2 separate regions of the Homo sapiens genome follow, and region 1 is linked to region 2. The links come from fine-mapping of genetic effects on gene expression. Tissue or cell type: testis. Region 2 holds a variant in brackets; the other region holds the start of a gene. All regions are shown on one strand. Distances are from middle to middle.

Region 1 (8,104 bases), 45 kb after region 2:
GCTTCATAGACTGTCTCTATAAAGTCCCTGCTTAGATAAATTCCGCTCCAGGGCCGGGTACACCCTGTAAGAGGCTGGTGGATTATGTGAGGTCAGGAGTTCAAGATCAGCCTAGCCAACATGGTGAAACCCCGTCTCTACTGAAAATAGGAAAATTAGCAGGAAATGGTGGCACAAACCTGTAATTAGAGCTACTTGGGAGGCTGAGGCAGGAGAATCGCTTGAGCCCAGAAGGTGGAAGTTGCAGTGAGCCAGGATTGCACATATTGCACTCCAGCCTGGGTGACAGACCGAGACTCTGTCTCAAACAAACAAACTAACAAAAATAAATAAATAAAAGAAAGATAAATTCAGCTAGGGAAAGAACCCGAGGACTATACAGTAGCTTCCATTTTTTTTTCTTTATTAGTGTGGCTGTGACCTCTTTGAGGGTCACAATTACAGTAAGTAAATGTAAAAACCACAGGGCACAAAGACAGGACCCTGCATTTGCCAGAAATGGAATCCAGGTCTCCCGGGTGGGAGGTGTAATTTCTACCACTGAACTGCCAGTGCCTCCTGACCCTGAGCTCTGCAGCCTTGGAAACAGTTAAGACACAGACTTGGGGAAAGGAGTCAAGATTTTCGCTGTGTTCTCTTTGATGTGACTAACAAAAAAGACACCCAGAGCAAAGGCTCGCAGTGGTGATTTGCATCAGGCAACACCACAAAGTTATGGCTTCACATTAAAAGAGCTGACTTGAAAAAGCCTTATTCTGAGTAGGCTCTGTGCAACTTGATAACAAACCTCTGTAGGAAAAATCAGAAATTCACCCAGTTTCTTGTCTCTGGTCCTGTATCCAGTGTGAGCCTGTGGAAAGTTCTTGCCTCGCTTGTTGATGTCTTCTCTTTGCCTCCCCATTGCTTGGTGCCTCTCAAACCCTTTCCTCCCAACCTTGACAGGAACATCAGTACTTTCTCCAAAAAAGGCTGTCAGAGAACAGGGACCCTGGTTTGGAAAGCTGAACTCTTGGGACTATGCCTGGGATACTCCAGGAGACCAGGGTGATAATTGAACTTCTCTCCTCCTACACCTCTTTTGAATTCCTGGAAAAGGCCTGGGATTGGATCTTGCTTTTAACTTCTTATGCCTTACAGAGACCTAAGCAAGAGCGAAGAAATGGACATTTCACTCCCAGATTTCTTCCCTTCACCTCACCCTGGTTGGCCACCCAAGGAGGCCAGTTCAGGGAAAAACAGTTCCATTTGATTCTAGGTAGATGCTAGGATATTACTCCTCTAGCTAACAGAAAGTGTTCTTTTGTTGTTTGCTTTTGTTGGATATTCATGTTTTCACTCTCATTCTTTTGTTTATAATGAGCATGGTACAGATTTGCACTGCTCTTTTTGTTGTTGTTGTTTGTTTTCTTTCCTTTTTACATTTTTTATTTCCAACTTTTCTTTTAAGTTCAGGGTACATGTGCAGGATGTGCAGGTTTGTCTTATAGGTAAACGTGTGCCATGGTGGTTTGCTGCACCGATCTTCCCATCACCCAGGTACTAAGCCCAGCATCCATTAGCTACTCTTCCTGATGCTCTCCCTCCTCCCAACCCCCACCCTCCAATAGGCTCCAGTGTGTGTTGTCCTTGCTCCCCAACCCCATGTATCCATGCATTCTCATATTCAGCTCCCATTTATAAGTGAAAACACACGGTGTTTGGTTTCCTGTTTCTGCGTTAGCTTGCTAAAGATAATGTGTACTGCTTTTGACCTGGCACCGTCGTTCACACCTGTAATCTCAGCAATTTGGGAGGCTGAGGCGTGTGGATCATGAGGTCAAGAGTTCGAGATCAGCCTGGCCAATATGGTGAAACCCCCATCTCTACTAAAAATACAAAAATTAGCTGAGCACAGTGGCGCGTGACTGTAGTCCCAGGTACTCGAGAGGCTGAGGCAGAAGAATCACTTGAACCAAGGAGGTGGAGGTTGCAGTGAGCTGAAATCATGCCACTGCACTCCAGCCTGGTAACAGAGCTAGACTGCGTCTCAAAAAAAAAAAATGTATATATATGTATATCTCCCTCCTATACAATATATACGTATATATATATATATATATATATATATAATATAATGTGCACTGCTTTGAATATTTAACCCTTTTCTGCCCATTAAACCATTAGAGCTGGCATTTCCTTTTCTATCCAATCTGAGAGACTTAAATCCATTATAATTCACAGCAGTTAGTGTTACATTGGAGATGACAGGCACAGTTAGTCTCATTCCCACCACCTCATTGTATGATTTCTGTGTTTTGGCTTTGTTTATAAAATCTCTTCCTGCCTTTCTTAACTAGACTGGTCTGTCTGGGTAAATTTTCTGTTTTTCTGTAGTGTTTTTGAAATTCCATGTCCCTGATTAGTTAATATATTTTCTTAGATCTCAGGTGCACAGGGAGAAGGTAATCATGTACCTTAGCTCAGGGCACATTATGGTGGCAGCTCTGAGCAAGGCACTTACTGTCTTTCCTTCTTTTCTCTGTTTATCCCACTCCCATTTCCCTGTCCACTTCCAGAAACACGTTCTGAGGAGTTTAGTATATGCTCTTTTATCTCACACTTTCTCTGCATATTTCAATAAGGGGATGTCTTTGGAAGACATACATTGTTCTTTGAGGATGGAGGATATTAAAACAACTTTAAAGTTTGAATTGGTTTCCAAAAACCCATTCCATCCTCTTTACTCCATTCTGTGTACTATCTTCTCAACTTTTCTATTCAAATAGAAAAGTTTGTGTATAAATTTGGGGAGGAAGAAAAGAGTCAAGCCAATGTAAAATGGGCAAAATACTTGAACGGTGTTTGTTTACCAAAGAGAATTTCTTAATGGCCAAATTGCATAAGAAAGGATTCTTGGCATTATTACTCATTCAGGAAACACAAATTTAAAATGCCATGATACTCCATAACACACCCATCAGAATGGGTAACATTTAAGAGACAGGGAAAGCCACTGGCTTATAAAAATGCAGAGCAACTGTAACTCTTGTTGCTGGCAAGAGAATACAATACTGTAAACAAACAGATGCCTGTAATCCCAGCAGTTTGGGAGGCCGAGGTGGGCTGATCCCTTGAGCTCAGGAGTTTCAGACTAGACTGGGCAAGATGAGGAAAACTCATCTCTACCAAAAAAATTCAAAGAATTAGCCAGGACTATAGGTGTGCCTGTAGTCCCAGCTACTCAGGAGGTTGCAGTGGGAGGATTGCTTGAGCCTGGGAGGCAGAGGTTGCAGTGAGCTAAGATTACACCACTGAAGTCCAGCTTGGGCTACAGGGTGAGACCCTGTCTCAAGGAAGGAAGGAAGGGAGGGAGGGATGGTGGGTCCAGGTGCGGTGATTTACCACTGTAATCCCAGCACTTTGGGAGTCTGAGTCCAGTGGATCACAAAGTCAGGAGATGAAGATGATCCTGGCTAACACAGTGAAACCCCCATCTCTACTCAAAATACAAAAAATGAGCTGGGCGGCATGGCACATGCCTGTAGTCCCAACTGCTTGGGAGGCTGAAGCAGGAGAATCACTGGAACCTGGGAGGCGGAGGTTGCAGTGAGCCGATATCATACCAAAACCACAATATCAGAGATGATAAATTCGCTGGATGGGATTAACAGCAGATTAGATGTTGCAGAAGAAATGATCAGGGAACATGGAATCATGAATAATTGAAAATATGCAAAATGAAACTCACAGACAAAAGAGATTTTTTTTAATGAAAAGATTATCAGTGAACTGTAGGGCAGACTTAAGAGGTCTAATTTTTGAGTAATGGGAGTCCCTGAGAAGGAGCAGGGAGGAAAGGAAACATTTATTTTCTTTCTTTGTTATTTTTCTTAGGAATGGGGTCTCAGTATGTTGCCCAGGCTGGTCTTGAATTTCAGGCCTCACTCAACACCTCCCGACTTGGCCTCCCAAAGGTGTGAGCCACTGTGCCCAGCCAATTTCTGAAGAAAAATAGCTGGAAAGTTCCCAATCATAACAAAAATTATAAATCCAGTGACCCAAGGAGCTGAGGAAACCAAAGCGCAAGAAACATGAATAAAACCACTCCTAGATACATCATAATAACATTGCTCAAATCTGGCCAGAAGAAAAAGACATTGTACATACACAGGAGCAAAAATGAGGATTGCATCAGCTTCCTTTCTGCTCTTGCCGGCCTCTACCAGGAGCAGCAATGCACACGAGCAGACAGAGAAGCAACATCTTTAAGGTACTGAGGGCAGGAGAAGTTAATGTAGAATACTATGCCAGAAAAAATAAATTCCCAAAAGTGGAAGTGAAATAAGGACATTTAGAGATGTACAAAAGCTGACCGAATTCACTACCAGTCAACCCACACTACAAGAAACATCAAATGAGTCCTCCAAGCAGAAGGAATCCAATACCAGATGAAAATCCAGATCTCCACGAGGAAATGAAGAACACCAGAAATGGGTAACTATACTAGGTATTTTTTTATTTTGTAAATTTCTTTTGTAAAAATTTGACCATTTAAACAAAAGCAATAACAATGGGTTGTGGTGTTTATAACATGCGTAAAAGCAAAGTGCATGTCAGCTATAGCGTCAAGGCCAGAAGGTGAGATATAATATCACTTGAAAGTTGACTGTGATAAGTTAAAAAGGTTTGCTATAAGCCCTAAGGGAATTACTAAAATAACAAAAGAAAGAGTTATAGCTAATAAGCCAACAGAAGAGAGAGAATAGAATGATATAAAAACTTTATGAACAGTATGATAGAGTAATTGTTCTTCCTATAGTAATTGCACCTCTAGCCTAAAGAAATATTTAGACCAGTGGCTGAAAATGCCCGTACAAGAATGACTAGAGCATTATATGTAATTATAAAAAAATCACAGAACCAATTTAACCTCAAAAGCATATGGAAAGGGCTAAATGAATGACAGTTAAAGAGAGAGAGAGAGAGAGAGAGGGAGAGGGAGAGAGAGAGAGAGAGAGAGAGAGAGAGAGAGAGAGAGAGAGAGAGAGAGAGAGAGAGAGAGAGAGAGAGAGCGGCGCGGTGGCTCACTCCTGTAATCCAGCACTTTGGGAGGCTGAGGCGGGCGGGTCACAAGGTCAGGAGATTGAGACCACCCTGGCCAACATGGTGAAACCCCGTCTCTACTAAAAATACAAAAATTAGCTGGGTGTGGTGGCGCGTGCCTATAATCCCAGCTACTCAGGGGGCTGAGGCAGGAGAATTGCTTGAACCAGAGAGTCGGAGGTTGCAGTGAGGCGAGATATCTTGCCACTGCACTCCAGCCTGGCCACAGAGCGAGACTCCATCTCAAAAAAAAAAAAAAAAAAAAGAGAGAGAGAGGGTTCCCAGAATCCTAGCGGACCTTGATTTACGTCCTCACGTCCTGCGCGACAGACGGAGGAGAGGAGGGTAAAGTTAGTCTCCCTCTGCCTTTCCATGATACCATGTGCTGGATAGAAGAAAGTTGCCAGCGGTTTAAGCATTTTTAAAATGCAAGAAATGCTCCATAGAACAGGCTCGAACCACCCACCTTCGGGCTTGGAAACAAGCACACCACCCAACTGAGACACACAGACAGACGACTCTCACTCTGGTATCACCATGCAGAGCAAGAGCCCATCCAACGTTAGGAGGAGCCACCGCCTTTTTTAGAACAACTGTGCAGGCTCTAAAGCCTCGGAAAACCTGAGAGGCGCATCTTGCTGGCTACGGTTGAAACCCGTGCATTGGGTGATTCCGAAGCTGGAAGGGCAGCGGAATGGCCTTCGCCCCGTCCTGACCCTCGCAGGCGTCAGACCCAGCATCCCAGGAAACGCCCGGGTCCGCGACTCCCTGGGCCTGAGCCGCGTGGGTCCCAGGGGAAGCAAGCAGAACGCCCCGTGGGCTCTAGTGATGGCTCTTCCCCTTCTTGGCTCCGCCTTCACCCGATTCTCTACTGCTGCTTGCGCTCCCCTCGCTCACCTCGGCCTCGGTCGGTGGGGCGGGAGAGAGGAGGGGTGAAAAGCAGAAATACGGAGAGGCCCCACAGAAGCAGAGGAGGTGCGGACCAGGACAGAGAGACCTCCCGAGAGAGGCTGGTGCAGGGAGGCCCAGGCTGGAGTGGAGGAGATGAGAATTGTTCTCATCACGTATGAAGATTGGGAGGAAGGGAGGGAAAAGCAGAGCGGGCATGAAAGAAAAGCGCGAGTCCCCTGTGGCTGTCTGGGAACGAATCCGCCTAATAATCGAAATCCATTGACGTCAAAAGGGCTAGAGCAAGCTCCGCCATCGCGGTTTAGCCTGTGGCTCGCCGTGATCGTATAGTGGTTAGTACTCTGCGTTGTGGCCGCAGCAACCTCGGTTCGAATCCGAGTCACGGCAATGTCGTTAGTCTAGGCTGTCAGCTCTTCCCTTTTGCTCCCGCAACCAGGCGCGTCAGGGGAAGGAAAAGAGACCTCACACCTTACTAACTTGGCGAGGAATCCAAGGGAAACCCTGGACGTGCTCCCTCCTGTTTCTGAGCCTCACGCAGCAAATAACCCAGTCGGCCCTGTTGGTGGCTTACACGAAGGCAATGGTGTGCTCAGAACCGTTCTTCCGGTCACTGGGGGCACGTCGGGGTAAGGAAAAGAGACCTCACAGCTCACTAACCTGGGGAGGAGTCCAAGGGAAACTCTGGACGTGCACCGTCCTGTCTCTGAGCCTCACAGAGCAAATAACCCAGTCAGCCCTGTTGGTGGTGGCTTACACGAAGGCAATGGTGTGCTCAGAACCTGTTTTCCAGTCACTGGGGCTGTTACACACGAAACGACAAGAAGCTTTTAATGACTTTAAACTCCAAACTCTTTGTTGTGGCCTACAATGGCTTGTCTCTGTGCCCGTCACCAAGTTTGTATGCCAACAGCAAAGTGTGAGGAAAGGCAATCTGGTGCCGGGGGTCTTTCCACCTCCACTCTGCCACGTAGGAATGGGCCTTGGGCCTGGAGCACTTCCTTCCTGAGAGATAAGGAGTCATCACAGCCTGTGCTGGACTCACCTCCTTGTGTGGGAGTATCTTTCCCCCGATCAGACTTGGTGTGTACCCCTTTGTTCCACTTAAGCATGTGCATCAACTGGCACCTGGCCAGCTGCTGTATCTGCCCCCCACTGAGGGGAGGAAGCGGGGGTCCTTTCTTCTGCTTCTCAAGAGGCTGTGTGTGCAGGCCAAATGGAGGGACCTGCTGGCCATGGGGGACCAACGCCCAAGACTGAAGCGGAGCCCACACCCCGCTCTGTCTCCTCTCTGTATGAATAATGTGTTGTTCTCCCGTCCAGTCTCTGACTGCCTTGTATTTCCTTGGCGACTCTGATACCAAGAGGCTAGGGCCAGAAGTGTTCAGACTCCTGCTGATAGGAAACCGATGCCACTTGCTGGACAAGATGAACGAAAATTCTTCTTGTATAGGTCTTTTTGTGGACACGTGCATTCATTTCCCTTGAGGAATACCAAGTACTGGAATTGTTGGATCATAGGGTAGGTGTAATATTAACTTTATTAGAAACGGCCAAATGGTTTCTTCCAGAATGCTTTCTCACCAGCAAGGAGAGTTCCACTGGCTGGACATCCTTGACAGCGCGTGGTGTTTACTGTTTTTTAAATACACCTGTTCTGGTGGATGTAAAACGGTACCACATCGTGGCTTCAATTTGTGTTTCCTTTAATGAGTAATGCTGTTGAGCATATTTTCTAATGCCTTTTCACCGTTTAGCAATCCTTCTTTGAGAAGACAGGCTTTGAAGCATTTTCCCTAATTCAATTGGCTTTGCTTTTTATTACTGATTTGTAAAAAGTACTCTCTATATTCAAAATTTGAGCCTTTTTTTTTCAGGTAAACACAGTGCAATTATCTTCTCCCAGTCTGTGGCTCACCTTCTCACTTTCTCATGGTGATTCTTGATGAGCAGAAGTTGATAACTTTGGTGAAATTCTACTTTGCTTTATTTTTTCCTGTTATCTCTTAAGGCAGAAATGTATTCTGCTACATTCTCTTCCAATAACTTTAGGGTTTCGTTTTAATTTCTAAATCTATGGCATATCAAATTCATCTCCTGACCACAGCAAACTTAG
Region 2 (8,104 bases):
CCACACATATCATCATTCTTTAACAAAGATTGAATGACCAAAACTGTGCTAAAGACTGAAATACAAAAATAGATATATATTATTTCCTATAGTGGTAGACTAGTTATCTCAGAGTAACCCCTCTGCTGAGAAAAAGTAAAATGAAATTGGGAAATATATTTTTTGAAAACCCACACCTTCCAAAAGCACCAAATAGTTAATCGAATAAGAAACTGCCCAGTCAAAAGCTAGAAAAAATGAAGCCCCTATATTAAAATCTGTTTGGCCCTAATGAGATTTGCTTATCTCGAAGAAATAACTGTGAAACTGCATTTGCTTAGGGCAGGTGGGGGTCTTTCAGGGCAGAGGAAACAAGACTTAAAGCTCAGGGTCCACCTTAGCTTAAGACTCAGATAAACCACCTGCCACTGTAAGGTAGAACCTAGCAAGGTTATCACTTCAGGGTAAGGGTAAACCAGAATTAAACCAGTCCTTCAAAAGACTTGCAGCCTAGCTTCTCATCATTTGGCTCTTTTAGGGAACCTGAAGCCTCGAACTTAGATTAAGATAGTCCTGCATTAGTAGCATCTCTAGAATCATGGCAGAAACAAATTAAAATACTCTCTTGTAAGAGGCACTATCATCTTATGTCTCAAAGTATTCCTAAAATACATTGAATAGCACACAAAGAAAACAAAATGCATAGGAAACAAGGTACCATGAGCAAGAACCAGTTAAAACAAGAAGATAGTAGAAACAGACCAACAAAGACTGTTTGTCATATATTGGGATTATTAGATACCAACTATAAAACAACTATGCCTACCAAGCCTTAAAAAAGAAAAAAAAAAAGGAAAAGAAAGAAAGAAAAGAAAAGCTTCAAAATTTCAGAAAGACACTGAGGGGGAAAAGTGACATAATTTTGAAAAGGGGAAATATAATGACAAATTATGAATTAATTGAGTGAGTTTAAGGGCATATTAGACATAGCTGAAGAAAGAATTATTGAACAGAAAAATAAGTCAGAATAAACTTTCCATATTACAGCACAAAGAGACAAAAACAGAAAATATAGCAGAGAGGATAAGAGAGAGGGAGGACATCTTGAAAAAGTCTAACATATATTTAATTGCAGTTTTACAAGAGAGAGAAATGGAGCAAAGGCAATATTTAAATTTTTATGGTTAAATGACTGAGAATTTTGGAGGACTGACTCATAGAACTTAAGAATTCCATGCAGGATAAAGAAAAAAGAAATCTACACCAAGATTCACCCTGAGATATTGCAGAAAACAAAAGAAAAAGTGAAAAAATCTTTATAGCGTCCAGAAAAAAAAATTTTAATTTAAGTTTCTAAAGCACAAAAATAAAAACCAAAGGAAAAATGGGAATATATTCTCCATGTTCTTATAGAAAATAAAAACTATTATAGAACTTTATAGCCAGCAAAATATTCTTCAACCATGAAAGTAAAATACAGGCATTTTCAGACAAACAAGAATTGAGAGAATTCACAACCAACTGACTTAGGCTAAAGGGTCAGAGACACAGAAAGGATTAAGAATTTTAAAAATGGTAAATATATGGGTAAACATAAATATTGACCTTAAAAGCTGTAATATGCATGTCTTACAGAGTGTTAAAATATACAGAATTAAAATGTATAGCAACTCCATGTTGCCAGCTAGAAACTAGGGAGAAAGGGAAGTTTTGTTAAATTATTCTAAGGTCCTGACCTCTTGACTTCAGGTAATCCACCCACCTCACCCCCATCTCTACTAAAAATACAAAAATTAGCTGGGTGTGGTGGTGCACACCTGTAATCCCAGCTACTCGGGAAGCTGAGGCAGGAGAATCGCTTGAACCTAGTAGGTGGAGGTTGCCATGAGCCGAGATAGCACCATTGCACTCCAGCCTGGGGGATAAGAGCAAATCTCCATCACAAAAAAAAAAAAAAAAAAAAAAAAATTATTCTAAGGTCCTTATACTCATTCCAGAAGGACAGTAAATGTACTGATTAACATTAGACTTTAGGCCAGGCATGGTAGCTCACACCTGTAAACCCAGCACTTTGGGAGGCCAGGGTTCAGGAGGATTGCTTGAGCCTAGAAGTCTGAGACCAGCCTGGGCAATATAGCGAGACCTCGTTGCTACAAAAAATAAACAAACAAAACTAGCCAGGTGTGGTGGTATGTGCCTGTAGTCGCAGCTACTGGGGAGGCTGAGGTAGGAGGATCGTTTAAGCTGGGGAAGTTGAGGATGTAGTGAGCTGTGACTGCATCACTGCACCCCAGTCTGGGCCACAAAGTGAGACCCTGTCTTTAAATTAAAAAGAAAAAAAAGACTTTGCTAAGGAAAGGGTGACTATTGTGTGATTTCTAGAGCCAGAGAGCCACTGCTCAAAGAATAGAAAAAGAGTACATTATTTTCATATCAACAGAAAAGGAAAAAAATAGATGGTAAGAAAAAATAATCATTTCAAAAGAAAGGCAAGAAAGGTGAGAAAAAGAAACATAGATCTGGTGGACCAAACAAAAGCACAAAATAAGATGGTTGTTTCTTGGCCAGGTGTGGTGGCTCACGCCTGTAATCCCAGCACTCTGGGAGGCCCAGGTGAGCAGATCACTTGAGGCCAGGAGTTCAAGACCATCATGGCCAACACAGGGAAACCCTGTCTCTACTAAAAATACAAAAAATTAGCTGCAGCTGGGCACAGTGGGAGGCCAAGGCAGGCAGATCACTTGAGGTCAGGTGTTCAAGACCAACCTGGCCAACATGGTGAAACCCCATCTCTACTGGGTCGTGTTCATTCTTACTCTCTGTCCCACTCAATATCTCCTCCTGGAGCCCCTGGGGCTGCCAGGTGCTTATCTGTCAGGCGATGCCCCCAGCTGAGGAATAAGGGACCCATGTCCTCAGGAGGAAGGAGGGTCACTTGAGGTAACGAGCACTTTCTGGGTCCGTGGAGAGGACACATGGAAGACGCTCAGTGAGTGTCGGGGGATGCGTAGTCCCTGACACGTGCCCTGATAACTTCGAGTATTTAAACTGATTTCTTCCCACTGATGTCTCTTTTGCTTCTCCATGGATTCCCACATCCCCAGTCAGGACTCACCCACCTGGCTCCAACGCTCTCACCTGCTGGCTTTCCCAGGAGTCCAGAGCACTAACCAGGCTCCAGGCAGGAGGAAAGAATGAATGCCTTTTGTTTCATTCTCTAGTGACTTCTCCCTGCTGTCTACTAGGGCATTTGTTTCTCACCATGTCTTCTCTCTCTCAATAGTCTTATTTTTCCAAAATTTTTTCCAATTTCAATGGGCTAGATTGTAATGTTAGTGATTATAATGTTAATTCAACACCTTCCACATCCCTATGTAATAATTTCTTCCAATAGATTTTTATATATAAATATATGCATTTATGTCACTGTTATATACGTTATGCATATTTGCATGTATTTTTAATAAAATGTAGATATATGCAATGTACCTATCTGTATGATCATTTCATCAATATCCCATGTTTAGTCTTCCCAATTCTTTTCTCTCATATGTTCATTTAACGTTGATTTTGCTTGATTTTTAGAATCTCCTCCCTCCCAAAACACAGCCTGTATCCAGTGTGATTTCCTTGCCTTTGCCTTATCTACTTGGAAGCTATTTGGGTTTATTAATCCTAAATTTTTTGAATATGTTTGCCAGTTGGGATCACCTTTTCCTCCTGGCAATCTTGTCATTACTGGGTGATGCATGAAAAATCAACAATACAGAAAGTACCCAAATGTCTTTCTTGGCTTCCCTTTACCCCTTGGATTTTCTTGTTCAAGGCCGCTTTCCTTCTCTGATGATCCTCTTGGGTGGAAGAGAAAGTCACAGTAAGATCATGGATGACAGTGAATGCTGTTGGGTGTGGTTTCATTTTCAGAGCTGGGTTTAGAGACTTCCCTTGGAATGAAGAACCCTCACCAGCTGGAAGGTGATGCTATTGAAGGCTCAGCTGACAACACACATGGGCATCAAGTCACTGGCCACATTCATGCCTCAAGTGTCCTAAAAC[CGAA/C]GATGACCAAAAGAAAGCTCCCATTCAGCAAGTGGAGACTGGCCTGCAGATTCCCTGGCCTGCAAGCTTAGAGTACGAAGGTAATCACATCTATGGCTCTTAGCTGCACTCACTCCTTATTTCTCTCTGTCTGTGATGACAGCTCCTTCTCCCACTGCTTTTTTCTTCTGTATTTGTTCTCTCCAGCAGCTGCTGTCATGTCTGTCTGGTCTAACCTCTGTGTCCCATGGGCTGCCACCCTGCCAGGCCCTTCTGGTCCTCATCACCTGTTTGCTCTCTGAACTCTGCTCTGTTCCCACTGCTGCTGTCCTGAGAGTCCTTCTCACAGCTGCAGGAGAGCCCAGCCTCCTTGTCTCCCTCCAAGTGCATGGTGTGAGCTGCTAAACACAGAGTTCTTTGCCTGGAATTGCACGGCTTGAGTAATTTGCCTTTCCTTCCTGCATCCCAAACTCCATTGCCCCTTTCTGCTGGGAGCATTGCTTTAATACGTCATTTATACACAGATTTTTCTCTTGGGACAGCTTTTGAGCAACCCAACTAAGTCAAACTTTAACCCTCACCTTGTACATGGGAATGAGAAGTGTTAAAAATGAGCACTAAGAACCCCAAATCAAAAACTAAATTAGAACCTGGGTCACAGAAGAGAGTTCCCTACTAGCCTGGAGTCAGGTGTGTCTTCAGCTCCAGATGGGCAACCTTATGCCAACGTGGATGAAGTTTCCAGGGACTGTGCCTGCTCCTCATGGAGTCACTTAGCTGACATTAACTGGAGAACATTTATGACATTCCAAAGGAACCTCAGCCGAAGGTAGATGCAGAGGGCAGGGCAGGACTTTGAACCTGCATAGACCACGAGGTACATTCTCACCTCTCTCCTTTTTATTCACATATCTACTTCTACAAGCTCAGTTAGAATCTAAAACACAACTCAGGTGAATCTTGAGGACAGAGAAATACGAGAGCATTTAATGAATTAACTTTGAGAAAAGTGAGTCCAGGGGTCAGCTTTATGTCTACATAAGATGATAGACAAGAACCTATCTACAGGACAGACTTTGCCTCAGACCAGCCCAAGTGAGAGATTTAACCGAAATTGTCAGAAGAAAGACTAAAATCCATAGAGCCACAGAGAATGAAGGCAATCATGAGAGAAATGAGGATAGGAAAGAAAATGATGGGAAATCAGGTTGGTTCATTCATTGTCTCTAAATCCTGCTACCATGTAATAAGCACCTGGTGAGATTTCAATAAACATGAATGCCTTGAACTGACATCTTGAGATTCTCACTTAAATGGTCTGGGGTGTGATGTGAGCATCAGTACCTTTAAAAAACTTCCATGATATTCTAATATACAACCGAAGATGACAAGGACCACTGGTCTACTCTGACCTCAGGTTTTCAACATGGAGATGACCACTTGTGTGGCTACTCCACACAAAAGGCTGAGCATCCATCAGACATTGATGGGATCTGTATTCACCTCTCAACAGTAGTATTTGTAGAATGTAGAAAAAAATAAAAAAGAAAAACAAGAAAATAGGTGGATTAGACCTATAGTCTCTCTACTTAAAGCACACTTGCTTAATTTTAAATACAAGTAAAATAAGAAATAGTCATTATATTGAAACCCAGTATACAGAAAACAATACCTCGTATATTACACATATTCAAATTTAGCATTTTCTGTTCAATTTTATTTTATTGTATTTTATGTTTTGTTTTATTTTATTTTATTTTTAAGACAGAGTCTCTCTCTGTCACCCAGGCTGGAGTGCAGTGGCGCAGTCTCGGCTCACTGCAACCTCCGTCTCGCTGCTTCAACAATTCTCATGCCTCAGCCTCCTGAGTAGCTGGGATTACAGGTGCATGCCACCACACTTGGCTAATTTTTGTATTTTTTTAGTAGAGGCATGGTTTCACCATGTTGGGAAGGCTGATTTCAAACTCCTGGCCTCAAGTGATCCATCCACCTTGGCTTCCCAAAGATCTGGGATTTAGGCATGAGCCGTCATGCCCAGCTTTCTTTTCAATTTTAAAATAAATCCTGCAGTTTACATTTCCACACACTGATTCCAGAGCCCATGAATGGGTTCAGCACTGCAGTGTAAAAATTCTGCTTTGCTCAATTCTTTTCATTCAGCCAAATCCTCAAAGAGAACTCGTAGTTCTCACTCAACTAGAGAGAATATAATAATAAGTAAAAACTGAAACTCGGCCGGGCATGGTGGCTCATGCCTCTTAATTCCAACACTTTGGGAGGCCAAGGAGGGTGGATCATCTGAGGTCAGGAGTTCGAGACCAGTCTGACCAACATGGCGAAACCCTGTCTCCACTAAAAATACAAAAATTAGCCGGGCGTGATGGCACGTGCCTGTAATCCCAGCTACTTGGGAAGCTGAGGCAGGAGAATCGCTTGAGCCTGGAAGACAGAGGTTACAGTGAGCTGAGATCGCACCACTACACTCCAGCCTGGGTGACAGAGCAAGACTCTATCTAAAAAAAAAAAGAAATAATAATAATAATAATAATAAAACTGAAACTCAGGAAGAGATGATATATGAATACTTTTTTATGCTACCCTTGACGCTGGCATAAAATACTAAAAAGAAATCTTTCCCAACAAACCACTTTGGGAAAAATATAACAGGGAGAGGAGAATGTAATAAAACACAAACTAATCCTTTTCACTTTCTACTTCAGAGTTTTGTCGATCAGATATTGAGAATATTTCTAGAAATGCCTTAAGGTGTAACCAGGTATGGAATCAACTTCAGGGAATTAGGGATAATAAGTTGGGCCATGGTTACAATCACCACCCTTCCTTTGTAATTCCATTTGACTCTTTCCTTTTCCTTTTTTTCTGATCCTTTTTGGAAGAACACATAATATTTCTTTTGTCTTTTCTCATTTTTAATTTTACCGACAAAACAAGTAGCAGTGACATCATATTTCTTTGTAAAAGCTCATTCCTATCCTAGCCAAGGTGACCCAGCAACCTCTAGTGACTGTCAAGAACTCCAGATTGGAGAATTGACTCTCTCTTCTCTCCAACTTATTGAAAGGGACTTCGTGCGTGGGTTCTAGTTTCAGGGTTGTCAATAGCAAGTCACGTGGCTTTAGTTAAGTCAGCCCTGTGGCATCACTGCTCCTCTGTTGTAAAAGGCAGAACTGGATGTGGATGTGGTCTGAGGTCCTTCCTGTATCTCACCTCCAGGGTTCTTCCCATGGCCCTGCACACCCTTCCCTAAGAGACGGGGACATGGAGCTGTAAGGGAGTGGGTTTCTCTGTAAAAGGTCCTTTCCTTCTGCAGCCCTCTGTTTCTGAGCTTTCATGGTTGATGCTGAGAACATCCTCACTGAGGGGTGTGAAAAGCCATCACTCTGCTCCAGACAGAAGGAATCAGGAGGAAAGGGGCTGATGTCACTGGCTGCTGGTTGGGCAGAGCTAGGGTCCCTATATCCTTCACCTCAGCTGACTGGAAGTTCAGGGGCATTTACTTTTCACTTGTGGATGGCACTTGCCTCTTCACTCAGCCTTCGGCTCAGCCTTCAGCTCATCCTCCTAGCAGGAGCTCAGTTTGCCCCTGGGCTATCACCACTTAGCAGTCCCTCTAGACTCAGCCATCAGCAGGACCTGACAAAGATGCCCATTTGATCTTTCCTTCTCTGTCTCCTACAGATACTAAATGCTGCTGGAACAATGAAAAGAAAGAAAGGATATCACAAAAAGCATTTTCGTTTGATGAAAAAAACTAAAAGAGCAAAGCAATTGAAAGCTCAACACAACACAGGAGGGATCCATGGCTGAGGATTGTATTTCAGAACCACTGACTGCTCTTGACAATTGTTAACCCACAATTTTGGTTAGAGAAGCCACAGTCCTTCAGCCTCCACTTGATATCAACACTTAGGAAGACCAAAGCCAGATGGACAAACAGCATTGAGAGGCTTTAGCCCTGCTCCTCTCACTTCCATCCTGTAGACAACAGGGAATTTGCCGGTGCAGAATATGAACAATGCCATGTTCTTGCTAAAAATGCTTAGCCTGAGTTTCATAGGAGGTA

Which allele goes with the higher level. Alleles are on the strand shown, and positions count from the first base shown. SD is a standard deviation of normalised expression in the study named.
For the expression in testis of the gene that starts at base 4,210 in region 1, allele C in region 2 goes with a lower level than allele CGAA (small effect, 0.31 SD a copy in GTEx).

The links. PIP is the estimated chance that this variant, and not a neighbour inherited with it, causes the effect.
Region 1: LINC02806 starts here. The variant in region 2 is fine-mapped to the expression of LINC02806 in testis (GTEx, PIP 0.91).

What each region holds. Positions count from the first base shown.
Region 1 is chr1:148,275,059-148,283,162 of GRCh38, forward strand. It overlaps LINC02806 (long intergenic non-protein coding RNA 2806), which reads left to right and starts at 4,210. Exons shown (of 2, transcript NR_187239.1): 1 at 4,210-4,473. It overlaps LINC01731 (long intergenic non-protein coding RNA 1731), which reads right to left and starts at 6,165. Exons shown (of 5, transcript NR_183739.1): 1 at 5,980-6,165; 2 at 180-316. It overlaps TRH-GTG1-3 (tRNA-His (anticodon GTG) 1-3), which reads left to right and starts at 6,307; the gene lies at 6,307-6,378.
Region 2 is chr1:148,230,378-148,238,481 of GRCh38, forward strand. All of the region lies in intron 1 of LOC101927468 (a long non-coding RNA gene), which reads right to left. Among named protein-coding and RNA genes, the nearest start is that of TRQ-CTG4-1, 31 kb to the right of the region's middle. RefSeq lists an enhancer at 7,574-8,075. The variant CGAA/C (reference allele first, on the strand shown) is at 4,036.